Linked DNA regions of Homo sapiens. The protein of the gene in region 1 purifies or fractionates together with the protein of each later gene. This does not show direct contact. Each region holds a gene or a part of one and is shown on either strand. Other genes may lie near its edges.

Region 1 (7,836 bases):
ATAACTCCTGGTTTGAGGGCGGTATGGGACAACTGGCACTGTCTTACAATGCTGAAATGGATTTCAAGTTTTCCGAAGGGAAATTTGCCACTATTCACCAAAATTAAAAATATATACCCTTTCTAATCAGCAGTTCTACTACAAGAACTACTTTCTCAAAGACATGCTCTTGTATGAAAAATAAGGGATCAAAGCTTTTTCTTTGCACCATTGTTTGTAATAGAGAAAGAAAGACTAGAAACAATCTGAGTGTCCACCAGCAGAGACTTCTAAATACATTGCAGCCCTTCCAAACAAGACAACACTGTGCAGCCGCTATAAAGAATGTACTCAATTTCTATTAGGTTGGTGCAAAATTAATTGCTGTCTCTGCCATTGAAAGTAGTGGCGAAAACTGCAATCGCCTTTGCACCAACCTAATATGTACTGATATAGAATAATTTCTAAGATACTTTAAGTACCAAAGCACGGGGGGGGCAATACATATTTATTTATAAATATATAAACTATTTCTGGAAAGAGGAATAAGAAACTAGAAACAAGAGAACTGGATAATTAAGACACAGGAGAAAATGAGACTTTATAGTCTGTAGGAAATCTTTTGAATTGTATTTCATTTGCAGGCATCGTATGTTCAAAATAAATACATTTTTGTATACAAGTTGGTGAAGGGACCTGTTTAAAAAAAAAGACATTTCCAGCCAGGCGTGGTGGCTCACGCCTGTAATCCTAGCACTTTGGGAGGCCAAGGCATGCGGATTACCTGAGGTCAGGAGTTCAAGACCAGCCTGACCAACATGGTGAAACCCCATCTCTACTAAAAATACAAAAAAAATTAGCCAGGCCTGGTGGCGGGTACCTGTAATCCCAGCTACTCGAGGCAGGAGAATCGCTTGAACCCAGGAGGAGGAAGTTGTGGTGAGCTGAGATCGCACCACTGCACTCCAGCCTGGGCTACAGAGCGAGACTTCATCTCAACAAAAAAAAAAAAAAAAAAAAGATGTTTCCACGTGACAGCTGTATTTCCTCTGGTTAGAGGCAGTGGAGTGGTGATTAGAAAGGCTGGGAAGGAAGGATGGGCTCAGATTTCTGATCATCACCGCTCACACTGAGACCTGACTCTCCACAGCAACAGGCGGAGGTGGCCCACATGTCCCAGACCCAGGAGGAGAAGCTGGCAGCTGCCCTCAGGGTGGAGTTACACAACACTTCGTGCCAAGTCCAGAGCCTCCAGGCTGAGACAGAATCCTTACGTGCCCTGGTAAGTGGGCCAAGGAAAGACCTGGTGTCCTTGTGCTAATTTTAACTCTCTACTGTCAAATTCCAGTATTATGGATCTTAGTTTCCAGGGGATTCCCATCTCACAGCATATGAGTTTTGAGGCCTGAAATGTCTTCTGACTCCCAAGGATCATCAGATACTGAATCACAGCAGGTGCAATAGACACTGTAGTGCCCCACGGAAATATCTCTTACCAGGCTGCTGCAGTAAATGTTGACTGTTAACATCTGCAGCCGCCCCTTTTCAGCTGCCCCACTGCTCCAGAGACCTGCCCTTACCCACACTGAGGACACCTGGCCCAGAAGGTTAGGCCCTGCCCCCCAAGGCTCAGCCAGTGACTAAGAGGGGGCTTTAAAATTAAAAGCCCAGCCCTTTTGCTTCAACATGGAGCTAGCTCCATGCTATAGAGCTCTCCATAGGACCAGGCTGTAGCCAGATTCCAGAGACCACATCCTCGCTTAGTGCCTTCCTCTGCCCTGTCCTGCTTTCCTCACTCCCCCTTTTCCTGAGAGTACTCCTTAATGATTTGCGAGTTCCAGGATCCCTAACTCAGGCTCTGCTTCTGGAGAACCCAACCTGAGACATCTAGTAAGCTCTCAGACTCACTGGGATTTGCAAGCTCGTCTCTTTCATTATTAATTATTTATTAAAATATTAAAATAATAAAATGTATTAATAATGAAGCAATCCACCCTCTGATCTCTGGAATGGATTGAAGTTCTATTTGGGTATTAAACATCTTTTCTTAGATGTCCCCTCCAGGAGGTCATTTGCATTGTTCTAACTACAGCTTCGTTGGTGCAAATCAAAGGTTGGTCCATGTAATCCTTGTGCAGCTGAGATGGCCTGGAGTCAATGAGGCGCATGATAGGATGTAGGTCCGTGCAAGCATGTATAAGAAAAGGATCTGAGGATCTGAGGGGAGGAAAATCAAGAGTAATAGAGTCAGAAGGGCTCAGCTCCTCCATTTATCCCTTGGGTAAAGAGGCAAATCCCTGAACCACAGTTTCCTCTTCTGCAAAATGGGTATGATAGTCACAGTCCAGCCCACTTCTCAGTGTTTCTAGGGGGATCCAATGTGTGGATGCACATGAGCATGCTCTTCTGACTCTTAGCATTATTTTGAGAACTTGCTATGTTCCTAGAACTGTACCAAGTGCTTTGGAGACATAAAACTAATGAGATATGGTCCCTGCCTCCAAAGAGTTAATGTGGCTTCGGTGGAGGAGCTGATACAAATGTGAGGGAGGGGCAGATGGGAGAGAGCACCCCTGCTGTGGGAGTCAGGAGGTAGACTTCGTGGTGGGTGCTCTCCTCACTCACTAGCTATGTGAATGAACAGCTTTCATTTTCTCACTTGTAAAGTGAGGATCTATTTTGGCTATCATATCTAGTTACTGTCTTAGTAGCTTAAGACAACAGTGAATCACTTGTTCTCTCATTCTGTGATTTAGGCAGAATTCAGCAGGGATAACTCTTCTCTGTATCATGTGGCCTCTGCTGGGGCTGGAACACCCAAAAATGGCTTCTTCATTTAGCTTCTCTGGTGACTCAATTGTGCATCTCTTTTTCTCTCTCCCTGTGACCACTCCGTGTAGCTAGCTTAGACCTCCTCATATCATGACAGCCTGACATAGTCAAACTTCTGATATAGCACCTGAGTGAGCACAGAAGCTACCAGGCCTCTTAACACCTGGGCTCGAAAGTCTCTGGACATCACTTATACCACATTCTAGTGGTCAAAGCAGTCACAAGACTATCCTAGATTCAACAGGGAGAGAAATAAATTCAACTTCTTGATGAGACAATGGCAAGGTCACATTGAGAAAGCGATTGTGGAGTGGAGATAATTGTTGTAGCTGCCAATGCAAGTGTGAGCCACTTTAGGATCGTAATAGAATTTACCTCATAACGTCATTGAGATGATTAATTTGATAATGTATGTCAAGCCCTTAGCACAGTGCCTGGCAGTTAGTGAGCAGTCAATAAATGCCATCTATTATTAATTATCATATAAAATTGCTATAATAGCTACTAGTACAGTAACTCCAAGTTGGCATCACCAGCCACCTGGTCACCTCACTTAAACCCAGGGTCCTAACCATTGGGGAAAAAAATGGAAAAATAATTTACACTCTCAACCAGAAAACTTCAGAGTAGTGCCATTCTGTCTATGCCCATAGCCCAGAACAGGCTGCCTCTGTTCCCTGCTGGTTCTAGTAGATTATCGTTCTGGTCACGGGGCCTTGCAGCCAAGGTGAGGAGCACAGATTGGGACAAAATAGGTAACAAACTCTCATACAGTTTTCAGATACAGGAAGTTCATCCAGCCATTCCTGTTATTCTGTCAGAGCGATCTGTGCACACACAAGGCCCCCGCAGCTTATATAAGCTTCAGACAGCCAAGCTGGCGAGACTTTCGGCCCCCTTTGCCAATAAGGCACTATTTGCATTGGAAGCTAGGCACAAATAATGGTGCTTGAGACCTGCTGAACTCTGTGTCCAGTCAACTCAAATCAGGAATGGAATTCAAGGCCAGAAGTCACAGAAGGTCACTATTTTACTTTCTGGAGGATTTTGCAATCCCAGAAAGTCCCTTCAAATCTCCAGAGACCTGCAGAATAAGTGTGCTTCTGTGATCTCAGCTTGTTTGCTGGTGCTGTCTGCGTGGCTGACTGAGCCAGTGTACTTGCCTGCAACAGTAGCCTGATCATAGTCACTCCAGCTCAAGCATCTCTGGGAGAACCAGGCATCCTCTCTTTCTGCCATAATGTCAGGGACTTAGGTGGGGAAGCTGGATTCGGACTTTAAGGGTGAGATGGAAGACACATATAACCTTTGGCTGGGGTTCCAATGAATGCCCTGTTGGCAGTGGGTCCTAAGTCACCATGGAAAAACCTCAGGCCACATGAAGAACTCACCTAGAAGATGGAGCAAAAACTATAGACAGATGATCCAACCGTGATTCTGTGAAGCGTGTTCCCAAATCACAGATGTTACAAATCCAATGTCAACAACAACTAGTCACAAGTTAAGTACTTTCATGCATAAACAAAGAGAGAAAACCCAGGGAGGTTGGAACAAATGATGCTCAAAGTCAAGGTGGCCATTTCTGCATCCTCACTGCTATAGAAAGGTTTCCAGATTCTATTAGTTAAATAATAACCCTAGACCAGATACTGATCTAGATTTATTTTCTAGTGATCACGTTTTGCCTCTTATAAATATGCCTCAGACAGATGAGAATCTGACTCAACATTCTCATATCCTATGGAATTAAGAAGATTTAAATAAGGTAATATGGTGATCCATGCTAACAGCAGTCATGATTCAAGATGGTGTCGTGACAGAATTTTCTGTTTCATCCATAGTGGTCATAAGGGTGTAAAAAGTCTCCTCCTGGAGGACAGGGTACAGAAACTTGTTGCATCAAAATTTAATTCAATCCAATTTAGAAAGATATTTGTTTTTTGTGTGTTATATTAAAAAGCCAGATGCTAAAGTATAGGTGAACCATAGTTAAAACTATTGGAAAATGTTGAACACAGATACAGTTTTTTAAAGGGGTTTATTGATTAGCTCTGTAGTTTTCAGGACATGGTGCATGGGAAGATGAGAAGAAAGAAGTTTCCAGTCTAATGGGGAGACATAGATAGTGCAATAAGTGTAACCATAATACAAGTGCTATCATCCAGGGCAATCTACACATACCAAGAACCTATTCTGTGCCAGGCCCTGACTTGTGTGCTGGGACTACAGAGACTTGGTTCCTTCCAAGTCTCACCATCTGGTGGAAAAGACGTGCCCATAAGCAAGCTTAGCCCACTGTGATAAGTTCAAGAGCATGCATGAGCTTGGGGAGCCATGGAAATACAGAGGGTCTCCTAACCCAGCTTGGTGATGGTAGCGGCAGAGGAGTTTCAAGGAAGGCTTCCTGGGGCAGGTTACCTCTAAGCTTGGACTTGGGGATGAGTAGGAGTGAGTGAGGTGAGGATGCTGGAAGGAATGGAGGAGCATGGTGCAGGTGGAGGAAAGAACACAGACCAAATAAACTCCAAGACTGGAAGTGTTGATGCTGCTGTAGGGTGGGGATAAAGATGGAAACATACTGGGCCAGCTGTGTGTGCCATATCAGGGGCCCTGGGGAGCCATCAATGGAGTTTAAGCAGAGGAGATACAGGCCCAGGTTTGGGCTTTGGACAGAGTACTGTGGCTATTTGTGTGTGGAACTCAGGAAGAGGAGGAACTAGAGGTGGGGAGATGAGCTAAGAGGCCACTGAGGGTACCACAGGTGAGAGGTGACAAGCTCCCAATCCCAGACCATGGTGGCTGCAGAATGTGAAAACTTCTCAAGAGATACAAGAAGCAGGACTCATAATATACAGGAGGCCATGATGGTTGCATTTGGAAGGAAGAGAAGGAAGGAAAGCAGGAACACATCTTTCCCTGGTTTCCAGCTCACATGGGTTCACCCGTTGAAGCATAGACTAGGGGGAGCCAGCAGGTTCAGGAGGCAGCCAGTGGCTTCATTTTGGACACCTTGATGTGAGGTCTGAGTATATGTTTCCAGTAAGAAGTTCAGTGGCAGGTCCATAGCTACTGAAGGAAAGATTGGTGGTGGAATTATCAACGCAGGACGTGGCCTGGAGACGACTCATGAGTATGTTCAAATCATGAGTATGATGGAGACCAACACAGACCCAGGATGCGCTCCTTGGAAAAAAAGCGGGCTCAGGGTGGGCACTGGGAAGCCCAAAGTGAAGGGACGGCAGAGGAAAAGGGATGGGCAAAAATGTGCTACTAAAACACCAAAGGGGAAAGCGCTGAGTATATAAAGGCCAGAGACATTCATTCTAAGGACAGTGATCTGGGAAAGAAAGCTGGAGGAGATGGTGTTCCAGCCAAATGATGGATGGGGTTTCAGCAGCAGAGGGAGAAGGGGTCCCCCGGGGAGTGAAGAAATCAGAAGAAAAAGCCCCGGAGAACAAGATTTCTTTGAAGAAACGCCTGCAAGCTGCCTCTCATTTGTCTCTCTCAATCCCTATCCCTCTTGCCCCGCTCCTCTCTCTCCTCACACCCCCTTTCTTTTCTCCCTCCCTCTCTCCTTCTCTTTTTCGCCTCCCTCACCCTCTCTCCCATCAAAAAGATCAATCAGACTAATCCACAGTCTGACCTGAGTGGGATTCCTTATTTTTCCCACGGAGCCACTAAGAATAACCCCCATCAGTCTCCATAACTGGCAAGGTCCCTGCCACGAGGGGAATAGTCCAGGCTACCACCAGCCCCTGCCACTGCTCTGCACACCTCCCTCTTCAAGGGCCCGGCCTGTTGTCCTCGGGTTTGGACCGGGTTCGCTCTTTTGTAGAAACGAGGCCTGGAGAACACCTTGCACGATGCCAAGCACTGGCATGACATGGAGCTCCAGAACCTGGGCGCTGTGGTCGGCCGGCTGGAGGCGGAGCTCAGGGAAATCCGAGCGGAGGCGGAGCAGCAGCAACAGGAGCGCGCGCATCTGCTGGCCCGCAAGTGCCAGCTGCAGAAGGACGTGGCGTCCTACCACGCCCTGCTGGACAGGGAGGAGAGCGGGTAAGCCTCGCTTCCGCGTCAATTATCCAAGAGATGCATATTCATGGCTTTAAAAATAATTATTTTCCAAACACTGTAGAAGTATTTAAGAAGAAATCACCCCAGACTTCCTCTCACATAGGCACCCATTCCCACAGCCTAGCTGTGTCCTTCCTTTCCTATTCACATACAAATAATATATATAATATATTCACATACTAATACATTTTCTATATGTATGCATATTTATGTATGTATATATACACACATACATTCACATACATGTGTATACCTAGGACGTACATAATAGCTGTTAGGAATGTTTCAGTTGCTTGTAATAGAACCTAATTAATGAGGCTATAAACCAGTGCTCCTGAAACTAATGTGCACTCAAAACCCTGCGCATCTTTTTTTTTTTTTTGGATACAGGGTCTCGTCTCGGTATGTTGCCCAGGCTGGTCTCGACTCAAACCCCTGGGCTCAAGTGATCCTCTCACCTAAGCCTCCAGAATAGCTGGGGTTACAGGTGTGAGCCGTGACACCCCAGCTGGGCATCTTTTTTAAATGCAGATTCTGCTTCAGTACGTCTGGGGTGGGGTCTGAGAGTCTTCCTTTCTAACAAGCTCCCAAGTGATGACTATACTGCTGCTCCACAGACTACACTCTGAGTAGCAAAGATGTGTAAATCATTTATTTAAGAGTCCCAGAAACAGGTGATCTAGGCTGCTCAAAGATTTCATTAAGGACTCAAGCTCTTTTCATCTTTCTAACATACCATGACAACATTGGCTTTTTGTCTTTATCTTTGTCACCCCATGGTTACCATATGCCAGCCACAGATCCAAACATCACATCCTCATTCCTGGCCGGAAGTGGGAGAGAAGAGGCAGCAGCAAAAAAAAAAAAAAAAAAAAAGGCTTTTTCTTTTTTTTTATTGATCATTCTTGGGTGTTTCTCGCAGAGGGGGATTTGGCAGGGTCATAGGACAAT
Region 2 (7,608 bases), on another chromosome or scaffold:
GTACAGATGGGATTTCACCATGTTGGCCAGGGTGGTCTCAAACTCCTGACCTCAGGTGATCCGCCCACCTCGGCCTCCCAAATTGCTGGGATTACAGGCGTGAGCCACCACACCTGGCCAACGTTTTCAGTTTTCAACACTAAGGTTACAAACAGCATTTGATCAGATGGAATGGGCTGTAAAGCAGCACAACATACCCAGCATGGCAAAGATCTTGCATTTCAGGTACCTGCATCTTTGTGTCTCTGGCCAGATCAGAACAGAAACCTCTTACCCTGCGTGTAGTCAGAACTGGGATGCTGGGGCTTGGTGCAGGCCTGGGATCTTCCCTGGCCTCCTCCTTCCTGTGGCAAACCCCCTCCCCACACAAGTGCCATCTGACACACAACCCAGAGAGATCTGGGGGCCATCTTCTCTCTCCCATGGTGCTGCTTCCTGGAACTGGAGCTTACTGGGACTTCCCTGTTTACCACCTCGGGGCAACCCAGCCTGGGGCTTGTTCAGCTGTCATGACCCCAGGTCAGGGCCAGGCAAGGAGTGAACCTGTCATGGAGCTAATGGGCCCCAGCTCTGGCAAGTGGACACACAGCCCCATAGGTGGGACTGAGCTTTCTAGGCCCATGGGGGCAGGTAAAAGCAGTTTGCTGTGGTTAACATAACCTAGGCTCTAAGGCAGTGAAGAACAGGATGTCATCCCCAAATATACCGCTGTGGTACAAGAATTATTCTGAGTAAAAGCAGATGCAGGAAGAGCTCTCTGTACTCCTATCTGCCTAAAAGTAGGGTATTCATTCCCCATGAGAAAGGCACCCTCTCTCTACCAGGAAGAGGAGGGCACTCTAATCCTGGGAGATGATTCTGCCTAAACAGACCTTACTACAATGACCATTATCTTGTGTTAATTCTTCCCATCTATTTCCTAGTCACTTTCCCACAATTTATCAGTCCTAGACGCCCAATCCCATTTCTGTGTCCAGTCACTTCTCCACAATTCACAAACCTTTGCTGAAATACGCTTTTCTATGAAGTTCTTGTGCATGTGAAACTTAAAATATTAATCAAATTGTATGATTTTTTTTCCTGTTAATTTGTCTTGTGCCAGTTTAATTTGCAGCCCTGAGCCACTGAACCTAACAGGGTAGAGGGAAATTTTTTTCTTCACCTGCAAAAGAAAGGGTTAAGTGCTATCCCATGAAACTATATCGAGTCAACTCTATAGAGCTATTGGGCACTCTCTGCACCCATTGGGGTAATTGGTGTCACAAGGGTAATTCTGCTGGGCTAACATGTTTCAGGTGTAGACATTCCTGCATGGGCAAAGAAAAGAAAACCCAAATGAATCTGTGTCTGAACAAGCCCACGGATATGGCTCTAAACCACCTTTCTGCTAAAATCCAAAGCAGAAGGGGACAGATTCAGATTTATTCTAGTATCCCAGAAGTTTGCTCTGTGATAGGGACAGATCAAGCTCAGTACTGATTCTAACACTGCCTTAACTGCTCATCTGGCACACACAAGTGACCATGATGCAACACACAAAGTGCAATCAAGAAAGCTCCAAAGATGCTGCCATCTGCCCCACACGTAGGCTCCCAGGAGCACACCTGCAGCAGGTCAGCGAGGAAAGAGGACAGCGGGAGGGAGCGCAGGCCAGGGAACGTGTGCCCCAGGCCCTTCAGCTCGGGTTTTATTTGGGTTTTAAGCAGCAAGACAAGGGGAGAAAAGGCAGGCTGAGCCCTGGCATCTCAGATGGCAGAGATGGCTCCCAGTACCCCACCCAGAAATGCAGGGCAGCCCTGGAGGGGAGGTTAGAGAGGAAACGACTGTGTCCCCCTCATCCTGCCCAGTCTGGGGCTTTCCCAGGACTTAAGTACTGACCTGCTAACACAGTCCCTGCAGGGAGTCCATCTAGGATCGGCCACCTCTGAGGTTCTCCCACTTTCCTCTGATTCCAGCTCCTTGCTGGCCAGGGTATGGCCACATTTTCCTTGCCCCCACTCCACCACCTTCCACCTTCCACCTTCCTCTCTTAGCCTCTATCTATGAGAGGTACGCCCCTCACCCCCGAGAGCAGGGTCTCATTGGCGGCCATGGTCCCAGCCTCAAGGGGCCTGGTTGAAACAGGCTGTGTCATGAGCCCCCACAGCCACCCTGCGCGACACCCCCCTCACAGGCCCACAGCAGGCTGCATCCTGAGCTCCCCGCCCTAGACAGAGACAGATTACTCCCGGAGCAGTCCCCCAAACCTCCCACCCGCCCAGGCCTCCCCAGTCCCCGGCTCCCCGACGCCCCTGCACGCCACCCCCGCCCAGGAGCACCTTGAGGTCTTCGGCCGCGTCCTGCAGCGGCCGCACGCGGTGCGCCCAGTGCTCCCCAGAGCGCTCGCAGGCCGCACACAGGAGGCGCAGCTCGTCGCCACAGAAGGCGGCCAGTGGCTCGCGGTGCGCGGGGCACACGCCCTGCGGGACCGGCGACGGCGGGTGCAGGCGCCGCGCCATCTCGGCCATCTTAGCAAGCGGGCGGTTGGGCCGCAGGTTCCTCTGCGGGGACAGCTCGCGGCACTCGGGGCACGCGTACGGGCCCTCGGGCTGGCCCCAGCAGCGCCGGATGCACTCGCGGCAGAAGTTGTGGCCGCAGTCGGTCATCACCGGATCCGTGAAGTAGTCGAGGCAGATGGCGCAGGTGGCCTCCTCCTGGAGGTTGGTGGACAGGTCGGGGGCGGCCATGGCGCGGACAGAGGGGAGGAAGGCGGTACTGTCCGCGGGGCGGCGGCGGGCGGCCTCGGCAGCTCGCGGGGACGCGGGGTATCCGGGTGCGGCGGCGCAGGCTCGGGCACTCCGGGGCGCGAGGCTCGGGACTCCCGGGTGCTCGGGCTCCGGGGCGCGGGGACTCCAGGGCGCAGGACTCTGGGTTTCGGTAGCGCTGGGCGCGTAGGCTCCGAGCGCTCGGGGGACGCGGGACGTAGGGATCCCGGATGCCGGCAGGAAGAGGAGCCGAGGCGGAAGCAGGAAGCGACTGGGTGGGTTTTGTGTGTTTTTTTTTTTTTTTTTTTTTTTTTTTTTTTTTTTTTGGAACAACCCGCTTTTGCCTCCGATTGGCCGCTGCCAGTCACGCGGCCCGCGGGCGGGACGGAATTGGAGAGCTTTCACTTGCTGACCTGGCGTCACCACCGCTCCGGTTCTTGTGGCCAGGTCTTTTACCCCTGCCCTGGGGAGGACTCAGGCGCAGGGGAGGGATGGGGACAGGGGGCGGGGCGCAGGGGAGGGATGGGGACAGGGGGCGGGGCGCAGGGGAGGGATGGAGCAGGGGGCAGGGCAAGGAGGGATGGGGACTCAGGGCGGGGCACACGGAAGCAACTGCAAGGACTAAGGGAGTCCGCAGCCTGGGGCATTGGAGCCCTTCGCCATACCCCTAGTGCGTCCTCACCCCCTCAGCCCGTGCTTCCCAGGGCGGGTATCCTCGGAAGGCCCGGCCCTCACAGCCTTGGCAGGCCAAGGTCAGAATGATTGGAGTTGGGGGATGGGACGGGGGCATCCCTCCAGGACCAGCTCTCCAGGAGGCCCACATTCTTTCTGCGGGAACCACTCCAAAGGGGCATGCTGTTCCAGGCAGCCCCTCGCGCAGACACTCCGGCTTTGTCGAGGTAGGAGTACGCTTACTCTGGAATTCTGCCTTGCTAGTGACTGACACAGGCTGTTAAAGTGCTTGACCCTGCAGGGGTGGGTGGGGGGTTCCTTGGAAAAGGTAAGGGCGCTGTGGAAAAGAGGCCCCTACATAAATCCTAATCTCTTTGGGATTTTGCCCCTGCTCGTGCAACTTTGGGGATCGAACGGGATGGGGGTGGGCAGCTCTGAGGCTTTTTACGGGTTCAGCCTTTCCCATTTTCCCCCATCGAAGGACCCAATAGGATGCATAGGACATTTCTATGGGCAGCCTGGGACCATCCCTGACACAGCAACCACCCCCGCTCCTCCCCACCATAGGATATTTCTACTTCTTTGACAGAGTAACCTAAACCCCTGGGGGGGCTGGGAGCCACAGATTCCTGTCATTCCAAAGTGGGGGTGGGGGCATGGCTAAAAAAAACGTGACCACGCTGTTCCTGGTGTGTAGGTATGGATTTAGAAATCGGTCCACTCAGAACGCAGGGGCTTTCAAAAGTTTCCTCTAGGAAGCATCTGTCAGTATACCCTCTTAATGTTTGACAGTTCTAATCACAATTATATTTAGAATTTGAGAAACCCCCCTGTGTGTCTAATGGCTGCCAGCGTGATGCCAGAGAACCCTGGCAGGTGGCCTGCAGTAAGCAGAAGGCCCACACCTTCTGCAGAGCCAGGAGCAGTGCCCGAGTCCCCCGGTCTGTGTCTATCCTTTCACCCACATGGTCACTGTGGAGATGACCATCTGACCAGACTTCGGAGCCCCCAGGCAGAAGAAAGGCTGCAGGGGGCCTGGGAAGGTGGCCTGGGAGTAGGTGTGCAGGTGGGACCCATCGCTTACACTGTAGAAGGACACTTCCCCGGCTTCGAAGTCCAGGAAGATGCCCATGTGGCTGGGAGGCTCCATCAGCATGACCGGGGTTAGGGCAGAGAAGGTGGATAAGTACTTGGTCCCCTTGGACAGCTGCACCACCCAGAAGCCGTTTTCGGGGCACTTGGGGACCCTGTCTTTCCGGCTCACGTTGTCCCTGCACACACCCAGGGCCCACAACGCGTCCCCGGTGATGTTCATGCCCACCTCCCAGTAGTGCCTCCCAGAGGAGAAGGCCGTCTGGCCCACAGCACAGGGGTAAGCCACAAATCGGTCCTTGCTGCAGAACCCACTGCCCTCCGGCGAAGAGCCGAGGTAGCGCCTCTGGCGGCTCTCATACAGGAGGAGGTAGGGGTACGCGGAGGTGGCATCAGGCACCACATCCTCTGTAGATGGGCGTGGTGGTGGAGAGATGGGGAGAGGTGTGGGGCATTCAGGGTCAAAGGTGGGAGTCCCCGGGCCCTAGTGGTGGATGTGGCCAATGGTCCCCTAACTCCGCAGAGGCCTCCCCTGCTGTGAATCTGGGGTTACTTGATGCTTCCACACACCAATTGTGTGTGGGCCTTGGTGGCAATAAGGTACAGGGGGCTGGGCAGAGAGACCACTGGGAACTCAACAAGATTCATCCCATGAATTAGAACCACCAGTAACGCCGCCCTACGAAGGCACAGTGAATAGCCAGTGACCGTCACCAGGCAGTGCACTTGTAGAACCCCCCCCATTGGTGGCTTCCGAGGCTAGGGGGTACAGTGGGGCATCGCCAAGAGATCCTGGGTCAGAGGTCCTGGCCCTGGGTGCCCACTTACCTAGAAAGCCTCTTAGCACTTCAATCTGTCCGGGAACTCTGCACACAGTCCTGGGTCTGGTTGGGGGGGCAACCTCTGGGCACTGCACACTCACGTTGTTCTTCCTCCGGTGGGCACACACAGGGGAGTCTTATTGACTCCCCTGGCCCGACAGTCTTATTGTCCCCCCCGCCCACCGCTGCCACTGCCCCCGCCCCTGCCTGAGGGGACCACATACCTGCTCAGGGGTTCCTTCATGTCCTGCAAAAGACAGGGACGGAGGGTGGGGAGTGAGCCAAGCTCCTGGCTCACCTCAATGTCCCTGCTCCCTTCTTGTCCGTGTCTTAGGGCAAGACCCATCCTGTCCCCTGGGCATTCCCTTCCCACAATTGAGCTTCATGGCACTCCTGAGCCTTCCCCACTGCCCTAGCTCCCACTACCACCAGAGCCCCCAGTGCCTCACCTAAGCTGAGCTACCCTGTCAGCCCACGGCCACACGCCTGAGGTCCTGCAACTCAGGAGAGGCGGAGGGACCCCTTCCAGGCAAGTGGCCACTCAACACTGACCCTCCTCTCCCATTTCAGGTGGGTGCAGCCCACTCAGCAGGAATGGGGTGGGGGCGCAATTGGGTGCAGTTTGGGGAGGGAGGGGGGTGGGTAAGAGACTGAGGCACCTGGGGATTTTCTGTAGCCTCTTTAGGGATTCAGAGTTCCCTAAAGAGATCACTGTTTACTTCTCTGGCCTGGAAGCTACAAGGGACTTGTTTTCCAAAGGCCATATTTCTAGTTGCCAGAGCGTGACCCTAACTCTAGGCAGGGACTCTCATGCAGGTGGCGCGCTTGGCCCTCTGCTCATAGGAGCACCCTTCTACCAGCTGCAGGGGCTTTTCCCTCAGTTGGTCAGCAAACCAATGTAGTGGGTTGTGAACAGGCTGCTTTGTTTTTCCTTTTCCTTTTTTTTTTTTTTCCTAGATGTGATCTCACCATCACCCAGGGTGGAGTGCAGTGGCGCAATAGCTCACTACAGCCTTGAACTCACGGGCTCAAGCAGTCTTCCTGCCTCAGCCTCCTGAGTCCTGGGACCACAGGCGCACGCCACCATGCCCTGCTAATATTTTTAAGTTTTTGTAGAGATGGCGTCTTATCAGCCGTAATCAAGCCCCCTCTCCAGGGCCATGGCACACAGGCTGGTCCCGGCAGACAGGCTGGCTGCTTCACCTCCCCACTGCCGTTGCCACACAACTCACTCCTGGGACAGTGCACCTCCTCCACACCGAGACATGGAGTCCCTGTCCCAAAGCCACACCTGGCTGCCAGGTGTCCCAAGCCACCTCTCTGGACTTGGAAGGAAATGGGGACACTGTCTCAGGTTGGAACCTGTAAGGGGCTGACTTGTGTCCCCACTAATTCACAGGTTGAAGCCTGAACCCTCAGGACCTCAGAATGTGACTGTGTTTGGAGATAGCATCTTTAAGGAGGGAGTTGAGGTCACTGGGGTGGGCCCTAATCCAGTCTGACTGGTGTCTTTATACAAGGAGATGATTAGGACAGAGACGTGCATAGAGAGATGATGCCATGAGGACGCGGGGAGGAGACGGCATCTTCAGGCCTAGGAGAGAGGCTCAGGAGGAACCAGGCCTGCCCGCACCTTGGCCTCAGCCACCCAGCCTCCAGGACTAGCAGACTGGGAGCTAACAGCCCTTTCCCGTTGGCTGCCTCTTCCCCAAGCCCAGCGCCCCCTGCCCATGCCTGTCAGAGCTCACATCCCACCCTGCCTGCCAAGCCTACTGGCTCACCTGCAGCATCTGGAGGGGCCCCTGTGTGCTCCGCTCCTCCAGCTGCAGCAGCAGCAGCTCCAGAGAGTGACCCTGCCGGTCCAGGCAGGCCACGCTCTCCCGGAGCCTGCTGGCAGTCTCCTCTTCTTCCGTCTCCAGAGCCTGGAGGAGCCTCTGCTCTTCTTCCACCAGGTAGAGGTTCATCTTCTCAAACTCCAGCACAATGCGTTCTCTCCGCTCCTTCACCTTGCCCTGCAGGAGTGGAGAAGCCCAGCATGTTGCCAGCAGGTGGCTCAGCTCCAGGGATGCTGGCACCTCTCCCCAGGGCCCTGGTGACCCACAAGATCACCAGCAACTGGAGCTTTAGTTGGGGACCAGGAACTGTGACAGAGGCCCCCACCTCTGCCATCCTGTGATACACTGAGTGTAACCCTCCGAGCCCCGAACTGCAACTTCTACACATCCAAACACCCATGCACCCTTGCTCTGAGGAGGTTCAGAATGTCCACCCCCAGATAA
Region 3 (7,000 bases), on another chromosome or scaffold:
ATTGATTTTGTAAATTTTTAAAAATAGGGGTCTGGCCAGGTGTGGTTCATACCTGTAATCTCAGCATTTTGGGAGGCTAAAGTGGGAGGATAGCTTAAAGCCAGGAGTTGAGGACTAGCCTGGGCAACATAGGGAGATCTCATCTCTACAAAAAGTTTTTAGCTGGGCATGGCTGCATGTGCCTGTAGTCTCACCTACTTGGGAGGCTGAAATGGGAGGTTTGCTTGAGCCCAGTAGTTAAAGGCTCCAGTGAGCTGCGATTGCACCACTGAACTCCAGCCTGGGTGACAGAGACGACCCTGTCTAAAAAAATAAAGGGAATGGAGGGTCAGAGTACAGTTCTTTTATTCATTGAACAAGTATTTATTAGTGTTTACCCTGTGTCAGTAATGAAAAATAAAACAGTTCCAAAATAGCACTATGTGGACAACTTGAAAGCCATCCATATTTACAATATCAGAAGGTTGCAGTTTTACCTAACACTACTGATTTATTCAAGGTTAGGAGCTTGGGCTTTTAAATCAGAGAGACATGGGTTGAAATTCTGCTTTTGTGCATTACAAGTTGTGGGATTTTTGGCAAATTATTAGAAATTAACCTCCAAAAGCACAGTTTCCTTATATGTTGAATAGGGATAATCATACCTATTGTGAGGTTGAGAGGATTAAATGAAATCATGAGTGTAAAATGCCTGGAATTGTGTCTACCGAATCGTAAACATTAATGAATGGTAAATGTCATATTTGCCCTTATTGACAAAGTCAGAATATTTTTGTCTGCATAATATCTCCCCTTTGTACTTAAAAAGGCCAAGTTTTTCTTGTTGGGGGAGGTGTGGAGTTTGCATGGACTTGTAAAATCCCTCTTTAAAATAGTTGCTGCTTTTAACAATTACCTTCCTAAACAAATTAGATTATAACTTGTCCTCTTCAGAGTAGCAATTAAACAGTCCTTTCATAGTTTCAAGCAAGATGTACAACCAACCACAGATGTAACCCTACCTGGTGATTTTCTAAACAAGAGTGTTTGTCACTGTAATTACTGCATGCTTCTTTTGATTTAAACCAAGCTTGTCCAACCTGTGGTCTGCAGGCCACATGTGGCCCAGGATGGGTTTTGAATGAGACCCAACACAAATTCATAAACGTGCTTAAAATGTTATGAGTTTTTCTGGCTGGGCGCGGTGGCTCACACCTGTAATCCCAGCCCTTTGGGAGCACTTTGAGGAGGGCCTCAGGATCACCTGAGGTCAAGAGTTTAAGGCCAGCCTGGCCAACATGGTGAAACCTCGTCTCTTTACTAAAAAATACAAAAATTAGCCGGGCATGGTGGCGCAGGCCTATAGTCCCAGCTACTGGGGAGGCTGAGGTGGGAGAATCACTTGAACCCAGGAGGCAGAGGTTGCAGCGAGCTGAGATTGTGCCACTACACTCCAGCCTGGGCGACAGAGCGAGACTCTGTCTCAAAAAAAAAATAAATAAATAAATAAATAAAAAATGAGGTTTTTTGCGATTTTTTTTTTTTTAAAGCTCATTAGCGATTGTTAGTGTATTTTATGTATGGCCCAAGACAGTTCTTCCAGTATGGCCCAGGGAAGCCAAAAGATTGGACACTCCTAATAAACTGTAGTCCAGATAAGTTATTTTTATATTAAAGAGCTGTGAGTAATGAAAAAAATACTAGTACTTAGAAAAAAAATCTAACTCTGGATGATGATTTTCTTTTCTTTTCTTTTTTTTGAGACCGAGTCTTGCTCTGTCGCCCAGGCTGGAGTGCAGTGGCACGATCTTGGCTCACTGCAGCTTCTGCCTCCCCAGTTCAAGCAATTTCTCCTGCCTCAGCCTCCTAAGTAGGTGGGATTACAGATTATAGGCACCTACCACCATGACTGGCCAGTTTTTTTTTTTTTGTATTTTTAGTAGAGATGGAGTTTTGCCATATTGGCCAGGGTTGTCTTGAACTCCTGACCTCAAGTGATCCACCTGCCTTGGCCTCCCAAAGTGCTGGGATTACAGGCATGAGCCACCGAGACCAGCCAGATGATGATTTTCTAACAGCATTAGTGGTGCCATGTTGACACTGCTGGGCTCTCACTCTACTTTTAAATGAAAATGTACAAAACCAAGGGCCATGCATGGTGACTTACACTTGTAATCCCAGCACTTTGGGAGGCTGAGTGTGGAGGATTCCCTAAGGCTAGGAGTTCGAGACCTGCCTGGGCAACACAGTGAAACCTCATCTCTCCAAAAAAGTAAAAAAATTAGGTAGGTGTGGTCGCATGTGCCTGTAGTTCCAACTACTTGGAAGGCTGAAGCGAGAGAGTTTGAGGCTACAGTGAGCCATGATCACACCACTATACTCCAGCCTAGGTGGCAGAGTGAAGTGAGACCCTTTCCAAGAAAATTAAAAAATAAAGATGAAAATGTAGAAAACCAGACTGAGCTCATTCCCATTTTTAATAAATTGTGTCTATGTTACTTTAAATAAGTGTTCTCAGTGTATTTTTCTTCGTTTATAGGTCACTTATTATTTGATAGTATTGAGAGCAGAAGTTAGTGACAGAGCAGGAGCACTGTTGTTATCTCAGACAAACAGTGCCACTTTAAGTTCCAGCTCCCTTTCCTTTTTTTTTTTTGGAGACAAGAGTCTCACTCTGTAACCCAGGCTGGAGTGCAGTAGCACAGTGTCGGCTCACTGCAACCTCCACCTCCCAGGTTCAAGCAATTCTCCTGCCTCAGCCTCCTGAGTAGCTGGGATTACAGGCGTGTGCCACCACACCCGGCTAATTTTTGTATTTTTAGTAGAGACGAGGTTTTACCTGTTGGCCAGGCTGGTCTCAAACTCCCGATCTCACGTGATCCGCCCACCTTGGCCTCCCAAAGTGCTGGGATTACAGGCGGTGAGCCACCGTACCTGACCTCCAGCTCCCTTTCTAGCCTCATGCATTTCAAGGAAGTCACTTCTCTTCTAACTACAAGCAGCCAGAAAAAGCAGACAGTAAAACACATACAGAGGGAGTGCTCGGGCACAAAGGGAGGTGGGGGTAAAGTCTCTTGGGTAACTGCCAAACTTCACTCTCATACAGTGGGCCCCAGTAAAGCAGTGGGCCTTAGAAAGCACATTCCTTTCCCTTCAGGTGCACTAAAATAGGGAAGCTAAAGCAGACTCGGGGGGTATGCCTGCAGCTCTAGAATAAATGGAACAAATACACAACTCTCCCTCCCAGATAAGCACTACAAAAAAACACAGAAGCAGTCTAAGCCTCTAATAAATTCTCCCACCCTAAATCCTTAAAAACTCTTAGTCTGGAAAAGAGTGTGCCTCTAACCTAACTCAGCCGAACACCCCTCTCAGGTTTGTTTTCTCTAAAATAAACCTGTCTTAACTGGCAAGCCACCCTTTGTGTTTCTCTCCTCTTTCTTTAATTCTTACAGTTAGAAATAAGGCCTAAAGCCCCAGTTGAGTAAGCTTCATCTAAAATTATAGCAGCATTAGCCCACAGAGAAATAGTTTTAATTTCTAAAGCTTAATTTCCCACAACAAAATTCTAATGAACATTTCTAAGGGGTAAAGGTAGACATCCTAAGATACAGGGCATAGGCAAAAAGAATGACTTTTATGACAATGAAGAACATTAGTGTCAGTGAAAAGTTGTTATGGAAATAAAGCGATTTGTTTCTTCTGAATGCTTTCATATCAGCCTACTATTCTGTGTAAACTCAGTGAAATATATTTTCTTGAAAATACCTATTTATTACTTCATATGGTATTGATTAAATATTCAATATTTGTTATTTCTCTTGTAGCAGAATTACCTGATTCTAGGACAAAGGAAATTGAAGCCATTCATGCAATCTTGAGATCAGAGGTAAGAAAAATCAAAGACTACTTAGATTTTTCTTTTTTGAAGTCATGAAGGTTACTCAAACATTACTTTGATCCTTTCTTTTTAAATGTACTGCTTAGCACTTTTTTTCTCTTCTTGTTTAATTTTGATTGTTTTTTGAGCTTTTATCAACCTTCTGTAGATGAAAAATATATTTACCTGTTACTGCAGTTTGCTATTCTTTAATATTCCCATCTCTATTTCTGTATAAGTAGGAAAACTGCCAAATGTAGAAATAATAGTATCAATAATTTATCATAATCCAGAGTTTACTGTGTTCTAACAGCATACTAAATTGCAGTGGCACATTTATTTAAGAATAATTTTTTTTTTTTTTTTTTGAAACGGGGTCTCACTCTGTCACCCAGGCTGGAGTGCAGTGGCACTATCTTGGCTCACTACAACCTCCACCTCCTGGGTTCAAGCAATTCTTCTGCCTCAGCCCCCCGAGTAGCTGGGACTACAGGTGCACGCTACCACACCCAGCTAATTTTTGTATTTTTAGTAGAGACAGGGTTTCACCACATTGGCCAGGCTGGTCTCAAACTCCTGACCTCGTGATTCACCCGCCTTAGCCTCCCAAAGTGCTGGGATTACAGGCGTGAGCCACCACGCCCAGCTAAGTATAATATTAAGAATGCAATTCTGTTTAACCTGGAGCTTTTTAAACACTAAAATGATAATAATATTTGGATACAAAAAAGTTAAGAATATAGGAATAGCAGCCAGGCACAGTGGCTCATGTCTGTAATCTGAGCACTTTGGGAAGCCGAGGTGGGTGGATCACTTGAGATCAGGAGTTTGAGACAAGCCTGGACAACATGGTGAAACCCCATCTCTAACTAAAAATACAAAAAAATTAGCTGGATGTGGTGGTGCACACCTGTAATCCCAGCTACTCAGGAGGCTGAGGCAGGAGACTTGCTGGAAACTGGGAGGCGGAGGTTGCACTGAGCCGAGATCACGCCATTGCATTCCAGCCTGAGTGACAGAGAAAAACTCCATCCAAAAAAAGAAAAAAAGGATACAGGAATAGCAAATTAATTTTAATGTTTTATTCATTATTAGGGTCTAGATTGGGCGCAGTGGCTCATGCCTGTAATCTCAGCGCTTTGGGAGGTGGAGGTGGGAGGATGGCTTGAGGCCAGGAGTTTGAGACCGGTTACAAAAAATAAAGATAAAAAAATTAGTCAAGGTGTGGTGGTGGGTGTCTGTAGTCCCAGCTACTTGTGAGGCTGAGGTGGGAGGATCACCTGATCTTAGGGCCCAGGAAGTCAAGGCTGCGGTGAGCTGTGATCCTGCCACTGTATTCCAGCCCGGGCAACAGAGTGAGACCTTGTATCAAAAAAAGAAAAAGACATTTTAATAATTTAAATACAGCAAATCCAAATTTTTATTTAATTTTTTTCTGGTTTTGAAAGCATAAAGACTCAAAATAAGCAATGTTCTTTGAATTCAGTGAACTGCTTTTTAACCCTTAATTGTATAACCTGGAATATCTTTATCTTGTAAAATATTGATTCCAAAGTTCAGTTACCTCTCTAATAGATTTCAGGTTATTATTACTTCTAGTTCTTTTCGTTGTGGTTGTTGCTTTGAGACATGGTCTTGCTTTTTTGCCCAGGCTGGAATACAGTGGCACAGTCATAGCTCACTGCAACCTTGAACTTCTGGGCTCAAGTGATCCTTCTGCTTCAGCCTCTTGAGTAGCTGGTACCACAGGCATGCAACACCGCACCCAGCTAATTTTTAAAGATTTTTTTGTAATAGGCCAGGCACGGTGGCTCATGCCTGTAATCCCAGCACTTTGGGAGGCTGAGGTGGGCAGATCACTTGAGGTCAGCTTGGTCAACATGGTGAAACCCTGTCTCTACTAAAAATACAAAAATTAGCTGGATATGGTGGTGGGCGCCTGTAATCCCAGCTACTTGGGAGGCTGAGGCAGGAGAATCACTTGAACCCGGGATGTGGAGGTTGCAGTGAGCCAAGATCGTACCATTGCACTCCAGCCTAAGCAAGACTCCATCTCCAATAAATAAGTAAGTAAGTAAGTAAATAAAAAAATAAATAAATAAATAAAATTTTTTGTAGAGACGATGTCTTGCTCTGTTGCCCAGGCTGGTCTCAAACTCCTGGCTTCAAGCAGTCTTTCCACCTTGGCCTCTGAAAGTGCTGGGATTACAGGCATGAGCCACATGCCCAGCCTGGTTCTTGATTGTGTCATTAAAAGCAATACTTTTGAAAATTTTAATGGCTCATGATTTTATTGAAGAGATGATGGCTGTCATCTTTGCTCTATAATTTCAAAAGCATGTTTATTCTTAGATTTATAAATGCCAATTAGAATGATCAGTCCACTGAGTTTTTTTCATTTCTGTGTCATCTGTTTCCTCCCAGTTGCCTTTGTGTACACACCTGCTTTCAGCCTTCTACATATGAACATATCAAGTAAATGTTGGTGTACAAATATACATGATGAAAGAATACTGTCACATGGCCAGGCATGGTGGCTCACGCCTGTAATCCCAGCACTTTGGGAGGCCGAGGTGGGTGGATCACCTGAGTTCGAGACCAGCCTGACCAACATGGAGAAACCCTGTCTCTACTAAAAATACAAAATTCGCTGGGCGTGGTGGCACATGCCTGTAATCCCAGCTACTTGGGAGGCTGAGGCAGGAGAATCACTTGAACCTGGGAGGTAGAGGTTGCGGTGAGCCAAGATCCCACCATTGCACTCCAGCCTGGGCAACAAGAGCGAGACTCTCAAAAAAAATAAAAAATAAAAATAAAAAAAGAATACTGTCATGTATCTGCTTAGCAAAATGAAATGGTTTAAGTCCTTGTCACAAAATAATGCAGAGTGAAGTATTTTCCTGTTGAATGACTAATTGATCTGAAAGCCATATTTCTTTTTTGTTCTTAAAAATATATTATTCACTCATCAATTCTTTTTTTTTTTTTTTTTTTTTTGAGACGGAGTCTCGCTCTGTCGCCCAGGCTGGAGTGCAGAGTGCAGTGGCGGGATCTAGGCTCACTGCAAGCTCCGCCTCCCGGGTTCACGCCATTCTCCTGCCTCAGCCTCCCAAGTAGCTGGGACTACAGGCGCCCGCCACT

The links. Proteins that work in one complex are often made in the same cells at the same time.
Region 2: the proteins of BFSP2 (region 1) and TRIM11 purify together in Homo sapiens (co-immunoprecipitation; 3 studies listed by BioGRID and IntAct, with this or other methods). This does not show direct contact.
Region 3: the proteins of BFSP2 (region 1) and TRIP11 purify together in Homo sapiens (affinity purification with mass spectrometry; 2 studies listed by BioGRID and IntAct, with this or other methods). This does not show direct contact.

Annotation. Positions count from the first base shown.
Region 1 is NC_000003.12:133,465,699-133,473,534, forward strand, and holds part of BFSP2 (phakinin), read left to right. Parts: intron 1-1,129; coding exon 1,130-1,261; intron 1,262-6,646; coding exon 6,647-6,867; coding exon of another isoform or gene 6,868-6,871; intron 6,872-7,836.
Region 2 is NC_000001.11:228,403,836-228,411,443, forward strand, and holds the start of TRIM11 (E3 ubiquitin-protein ligase TRIM11), read right to left. Parts: upstream 3,001-7,608; 5' UTR 2,727-3,000; coding exon 2,319-2,726; intron 1-2,318. Other genes in the region: E3 ubiquitin-protein ligase TRIM17, read right to left, coding at 4,366-4,916, 5,337-5,440, 5,554-5,576, 7,111-7,341.
Region 3 is NC_000014.9:92,030,060-92,037,059, reverse strand, and holds part of TRIP11 (thyroid receptor-interacting protein 11), read left to right. Parts: intron 1-3,806; coding exon 3,807-3,868; intron 3,869-7,000.